2 linked regions of the Homo sapiens genome follow. The protein of the gene in region 2 interacts with the protein of the main gene of each other region in a biochemical or structural test. Each region holds a gene or a part of one and is shown on either strand. Other genes may lie near its edges. The genes, in order: UBE3A and PAICS.

The links.
Region 1: the proteins of PAICS (region 2) and UBE3A form a complex in vitro, tested with the Homo sapiens proteins (one large-scale study listed by BioGRID).

What each region holds. Positions count from the first base shown.
Region 1 is NC_000015.10:25,365,745-25,369,575, forward strand, and holds part of UBE3A (ubiquitin-protein ligase E3A), read right to left. Parts: intron 1-3,831. UniProt on the Homo sapiens protein: E3 ubiquitin-protein ligase which accepts ubiquitin from an E2 ubiquitin-conjugating enzyme in the form of a thioester and transfers it to its substrates.
Region 2 is NC_000004.12:56,442,758-56,446,588, reverse strand, and holds part of PAICS (bifunctional phosphoribosylaminoimidazole carboxylase/phosphoribosylaminoimidazole succinocarboxamide synthetase), read right to left. Parts: intron 233-3,831; coding exon of another isoform or gene 212-232; intron 1-211. UniProt on the Homo sapiens protein: Bifunctional phosphoribosylaminoimidazole carboxylase and phosphoribosylaminoimidazole succinocarboxamide synthetase catalyzing two reactions of the de novo purine biosynthetic pathway.

The sequences.
Region 1 (3,831 bases), on a different chromosome or scaffold from region 2:
CTAAAAAAAAAAAAAAAAAAAGAGGAAAAAGAAAGAAAGGCTAGCTTCAACTACTTCAGTCAACTTGAGGCTTAAACTATTGCTTGAGATTTCCAGATTATCCAAATTAATTTTTTCATGTTCACGATAAACACATGAAGAAAAGTCTGTTATATCTCAAATGTAGTTTAAATGTTTGGGTAACACCAAATCACATAATCACGTTCGTCCATGAGACCTGGAATCCTGACTTCTATTTCCAATTCTGCCATTAATTTATGTAGGCTGGAATCTCTTTTAGATTTCATTTTCCTCACATGTAATACTAAGTTTGATGTTTCATTGTCTTAAATTATTATATAATGCTGAGGATCTATGTATATATAGGCTTCATTCTCTCATTCAGTTTCTGAGAAATTACTTTGAGGGCATAAACCAAGCATATTTCTTGGTTTCATTTTTGATTTCAATTAGAATAAATCACAAGAAAGAACAATGGAAATTACATGTTAACCACAATATAGTGTATGTGTAAGACAAAATTAAACATACCTAGTGCAGCACAGAATAATCTCATTTTTAAAGCTCTGTGAGTCAATGAATAAATAAAAGAATTACGTTCATGTTTCACTAGTAAGAGTGTTCACCAATGCTGGAAGCTGGGAGCTGAAAATGCTGGAAGCTGGGTTAGACTAGGCTATTAGAAACCAGATAAAAAGGGCCAGTGACTTTTAGAGGGGATTTTGCAGAACCTCCTGGTAGTGGGGCTTTTTATCTGTGCCAATCACCTTTATCTGTGCTAATTCCTATTTTTGAACTTCCCTATTCAATTCCACATCTCAGCCATTCCTTTTGGTTTTTAGATATTTATGTGAAATGCTAGAACTCCCTGACTAATTGGAACCAAGTTTCACATCATCATCATCCTCTATTCCAAGCTTGCTGTCCCCATGATCCTCTTAAAAATCTGAGTTTCCAAAACACATAAACATACTTGTATATCAAAATGGCCTTTCTCTTTCTCTCTATATATGCACACATACACACATAAACACACATGCACACACACCCCCACCTGAGCTGAACCAAAGGCCATCTTCCCAAATATTGGAGTCTGGCTTTATCAAAATATTTGTGGAGTATTACCAGAAGTTCAGATTCATAGGCTCTACAATACAGCTTCTAATCTAAACCTCTAGAGGTTAGGGCCCTGGATTTTATTTATTTATTTATTTATTTTTTTTAAACAATTTTCCCATTCAGATGTGAAGGCAGTTTGAGGGACCTCATGATGGCAATACTATATTCTTCCATAAACTTATAACCTCTATCTTCTCCTTTAAGAAGTAATTTAAAAAATCTTAATACATACTATCATTGGAAGTGCTTCATCTAAGAAAAATGAGAAATTATCTACTTGTAAAAGAACACACAAATGGGTATATTTACATATTTGTAAATATGTAAATATTTACATATTTGTAAATATGTAAATATTTACATATTTGTAAATATGTAAATATTTGCATATTTGTAAATATGTAAATATTTACATATTTAAATTAAATTAATTTACATATTAAATTAAATTACATATTTATATTAAAAATGTAAATTTGTAAATATGGTTTTACATATTTGTAAAAACCTCATCACATTAGGAATGTCATTCAAATGAAAGGTGAAGTCTAAGCTCATGTTTATCACTGTACTGTTTTCTAAGGAACAATAACGAAAAAATACTGAAAATAAGTCCTAGGGGAACTATGGCAGTAAGTTAAACGGGTAGGGTGGGGGTGTTCTTAAGCAGTTCTAAGGTATTTGTGAAGAGACAACTTATATTCTATTGATTCTAAAATTCACTTTTTTCACATTATCTCTGAAATCAGATTACACCATACAAATGATAGCATCTTACAATGAATTGCTGGTATTTTTCTGTCTTAGCAGTAATAAAATGATAGTGTTTCCTACAATCAGAGATTAGTGAAAATACTATCAACATGAATTCTTCTCTTGTCATCAAAGACAATTTCTCTAAAAACCTCAGGAAAAAAGCTGCTAGTCTGGTTTGAATTTCACAATATATAAAAGCAATGAATATATTTTTCTTTTTTAAAAAAATCCACAATTATTAATTCAAGTTACCACTCCTCAACAGAAAACATACAAGAGTCTCATATATGAAGTCACTATTTTCTGGGCTTGATTTCTAAACTAAGGAGTGGATAACTCTAAGGTTTCTTTTAGCTCTTAAAGCCTAGGATCCCATAATTTTATTTATCAATATTAAGCTTACCACAAAGTTTCTCATTTCTTCTTTTCCACCCAACCCTGCTATACAATTCCAAAATTAGCAAGTCATAAAAAAGTGGCCACTAGTTTGTTCACTGTGATATATAAGAATGAGGCTTAAAAAGCAGAGATCCTTGGGAAATAAGATCTTGAAAAATTCATCACTTTTGAGCTTTCATATGAGAGAATAATCTTAAACCACTTTCTATTATAGAACTTCTACTATGTGTTACTAAAATATGTGGCTTTATCATAATCATCACCTGCTGTGAATACTTACTTCAAAAAATTACACAGGTTATCAATTTTACTTATAAGACCTATTTCGATGCTGGTTTTTCTAGTCTTTTCACATTCTGTTATTTTTTTAAAAAAAAGAAAAGGAAGAAAAAGCAAGGGAGAAAGAAAGTTAAGAGTAAAATCTGCTTAGTGTGAGCATTCAGAGCCCCTAAGGAAGCTTCTCTGTAAGCATCATCTCTTTCTATTTTCACAGTTTATTAAACTGCCTAACACACATGATTTCTGAAGTGAACTGCTTTTGTGGGCTGGCAATATTCAAGTACATATACTATCTAGTGAATCCTGATTTATGATAGGCCACACTATATTATCTAATTTTGATATAATTAAGCAGAACTTGCTAAAAACAAGTTACCATAATTAAAGAGCTCACAGTTAATTTTACACTAACACCTAAGGCTTTAAAAGCAGTTGTTTCCTTAAAATTCTAGAATAGAATTTAAAATATAGAATAAAGTATATACCAAGTACTTAAACTTTTGTTTTTAGTCTTGCTTTACTAGAGAAAAAAATGGGGGACTGAGGAAAATAAGACTGAGTAGACTTCTGAGCGAAAGACAGATAAGGAAGGTAGACAATTTTTTGAACCCTGGAATGATTCTTACAGTGTAATTTCATTGCCTTTTAAAGGCTAGACATAGCTTTTGATGAAGACAGCTGAAGGGATCTCACCTCAAGAAGCCAAACATAAAGTATGTAGCTTTGGCATTTGCAGTTCTGCTCCAACAATGGATAGTCATAGACAGACCTCAACATACCTTTCATAAAACATCACTCACATTCTTATAAAATACCCTATCATTCTGCTAAACTATGTAAAGTAAGGTGCTGGCTGCCTTATGATCAGTCATTAAGTGTATTAATTATTCATGTGTCTCAAAACTATGTAAGTGAAATAAAAAGGGTACCAGAAAGCAAGCAATAATAATGACTTCAGGCAGTTAAAGCCCCCTTTTGTCTCTGCTAGAAAACCACCTGAGTTGCTTAAATAATGCAGAATCTTTCTCCAACACTATAAACATATCTGACATTAAAAAAAAAAAACAAACCAGTAACAAAAAAAAAAAAAACACACAAAATCTCTGCAATTTTTAATTTCTGAGATGTCAAATAACTTTTTCCACCGGGCTACAGCTTTATGAATTCTCGAATTTAGACAATTCTAAAACTAAAATTTAGACATTCTAAAACTAAAATACATTTTAAAGTAAAAATCACATTTCCTAGTTGTCTGTGTCAGACAACTTTACTAGTATA
Region 2 (3,831 bases):
TCAAAAATAAGTGTAATTTTTCTCTTTATTTAATGTAGATGCGGTCAGTTGTTGACTCAAACAGTAAGCAGCACATGACTATACATACAATGTATTGTTCAGCCATAAAAAGGAACGAAATTCCTGATACATCCATGCTATATAATATGGATGAAGCTTAAAAACACTAGGCTAAATGAAAAACACAAAATGCAAAAGAACAAATACTTACGATTTGACTTATATGAGGTAACTAGAATAGGCAAATTCAGACAGAAAAGAGAATGGAAGTTACCAAGGGCTGAGGAGTGGGAGGAATAGTTATTGTTTAATGCTACACAGTTTGTTTGGGATGATGAAAAAGTTCTGGAAATGGATAATGGGATGAATGTACAACATTGTGAATGCACATAATGCCACTGAATTGGACACTTAAAAATGGTCAAACTGGTAAATTTTATGTATTTATCACAATTTTCTTTTAAAAAATATCAGGAGCCTATTTTATGGCAGATATTGTTCCAACCATTTTAAATACATCTTTTTTGTTTAATCCTCATAACATTTGATAAGATACTATTAAGATCAACAAAACAGGTAAGGACACTAAGACACAGTAGTAATGTCAGCTAGTATTAGGTATAGCAGGATTTCCAACCTACCCTGTCTCTAGGAGCCGCCCACTTAACCACTTTGCTGTATTGCCTCTCCTGGAAGTGTTATTACATCACAGTACAAAGTAATGCTACAGCATTAACATGATTTAAAATATCTCCTGGAAACCTACATGGGTTTGAGATAATGCTTATTTTCAGCCTGCATTACTATTTCCAATCCCAACCTAATCCTCTAGTCTAACTTTTATTATCAGGAAAGAATTGGGGATCTTTGCTGTTATATGTGTATCTGTACATGAAGGGAGCTTCTATTTATGGAAATCCTCCACTGTGCTAAGTGTCTTATATATGTTGTCTCATTTAACTGTGCATAAAATTTTGAGGTAGGTTTTTTTGTTTTTTTGGTTTTTTTTTGAGACAAAGTGTCACACAGGCTGGAGTGCAGTGGCGTGATCTTGGCTCACTGCAACCTCCGCCGCCTGGGTTCAAGAGATTCTCCTGCCTCAGCCTCCTGAGTAGCTGGGATTACAGGTGTGCACCACCACGCCTGGCTAATTTTTGTATTTTTAGTAGAGACAGGGTTTCATCATGTTGGTCAGGAACTCCTGATCTCGTGATCTGCCCACCTTAGTCTCCCAAGGTGCTGGGATTACAGGTGTGAGCCACCGCGCCTGGCCTTGAAGTAGGTATTATTATTTATACATTTTACAGTGAAAAAAACAGAGGCTCAAAGAAGTAATTTCACACACTAGGTCATGTAGCCATTTGGTAATGGAGCCTGGACTTGAAACGCACTGTCCAAACCCTACACTATTTCCTCTGCCCTCTCTTTGAATCTGACTCGTAAGACTCAAATGAAAAAAAGAAAGAATTGTGGTATGTTGCATGAACAGAAACCCTAAGGAAAAAATGAAAAGAGGGGAAGTAAAACTGTCATTTTAACCTTTAAAAAAAAATTAGATGCAATCTGTTGTTTAACTTTTAATGAATGATCAGGCTCATGGATAGACAGGTGACTTCAATCAATTCTCAACTTGGGGTGGTAACTACATCCTTGGTTTCAAGAGCTCTTCTCTCTTAGATCTGTTAATCATTAGTCACATATTTGCTCATTTGTCTACCAAGCTGGACACAGTAGTATCCAATTTTATTGTTTTTAATATAAAGATAACTTCGTCTTAGAGAGATCCCCCCGCCAATCCCAAGGAGAACCAAAAGCACATAATGAAGCTACAGTAATCATCTCTGCACAAAAAATCCCTAAAAGTTTCTAAAACAGACTCAGTTTAGATGACATAATGATGGCTTCTAATACTGCTAAATATGAAAGCAAATTCCATGACTGTGCATGGTGAGAAAAAAATTCCCATTGTTTATCTTAGTTGTCTACAAAGCTCAAAACTCTCATTCAGGTTACTAAAAAATGTTTATGTCACTGACACACTCTGGATTACAATGAACATATATTAGCTAGAATAGTAATTCTAGCTAATACATATGTCCCCGTGGCCATCCCTCTTTTAGATTGGTCCAGATGCCCATCTGTGGTTTAGCAACTGTAGTACCGTTCTTCATATACTAGTATTACACTTAATGTAATTATAGTGAGTTTCTGTGAGGAAATTGGGATTTCATCATCACTAAGAAGGCCAGATTTTAATTTTTAAGTAATAAAACCAAATCCACAAATTGTATAACACAGTTATAACACAGTTATACTATTTCCACGGAAAAAGATTACTTCTTATTTATATAGTCCTTTACAGTTTGTTCCTGAGTGACAATGAGAAAAGTAGAATCCTGATTTTCTGATTCTCATTCCAATGCTCTTTCCTCTCTACTTTCTACCTTAATTTGGAACACAACCCAGGTTGTAAAGAAAACAGTTTTAAATAGACCACTGATGGCCAACTAGATAAGGCATTTATTTGACTAAGCAAGTAAAAATTACATAAGGTTTAATGGAATTCCTAATATGTACCCTAAAACTAGTCTGTTTAGAAATTTTAAAAAATTCAGGTTTACTTAGTTTCATAGTACTAGACATAAAATCTGGAAAATATCTTTCAACATTTCCTGTGAACCAGTTAAGTTTTAGCTATGTTAAGTGCCAAATAAAGTAGTTTAAAGATAATTATTGGAGTATTTCATTTAGGTAACCATCCTTCCCTGTTCCCCTGATCACAGGACTCTTCAGAATTAAAGCAGAAAGTCCTGGACAAACATAACACAACTGAGTCACTCTAATTTACTTGTTATAAAGTTCTGGAAATGGATAATGGGATGAGTGTAAATACACTCAGAAAATACACTAAATAAGCAAATAAAAAGTCAGGCTTTATCTTCCATTACTTAATATAATCCTGTAGCTATGTGAAACTACCAAGGGTACACAGAAAGTAATCTTCTGACTGCTAACATTTTAAAGAGTTAAGCACTTTAAAAAATGTTTAAGTGAATGGGGAGAGTTAAAACTTGGGAAGAAAAAAAAAAATCGATGGAACAGGCCGGGTGTGGTGGCTTACGCCTGTAATCCCAGCACTTTGGGAGGCCAATGCGGGTGGATCACTTAAGGCCAGCAGTTCGAAACCAGCCTGGCCAATATGGCAAAACCTCGTCTCTACTAAAAATACAAAAATTAGCCGGGTATGGTGGCGTGCACCTATAACTGTAATCCCAGCTACTGGGGAGGCTGAGGCATGAGAATCGCTTGAACCCAGGAGATGGAGGTTGCAGTAATCCGAGATTGTGCCACTGCACTCCAGCCTGGGCAACAAAGCAAGATTCTGACTTAAAATAAATAAAAAAATAAAATAAATAAATAGATGGAACACTTATCGGTATTGCAAAAGGAACCCAAAATTAATTTGATGCTCTCTTTAGAAATTACCTCAGTCATTGGGAAGCTACCAATCAAGAAACCTTGAAATAAAAATCTTAGATTCTGTGACTTAGGAACTCTGGAAGATCCTTTAAATTTACAGCAATACACTCACTTTCACAGCATAGAGGAATTTATGATGTAGATGACAATCCAGGTTTGCAATTAAATCTTTTTCACATTAATCAAAATTGTGAAATAGGATACTTTGGAAGAGACAAAACTACGCCAAGAATGCACTGACAATGTATTTAAATTACATTACCTTGTTATTTTGTGGAAGGCACGTACATCTAACTTAACTGAAAACAAAAGCATTAAATCCCCTGTTGAATTTAAGAAAGATTAGTGCTA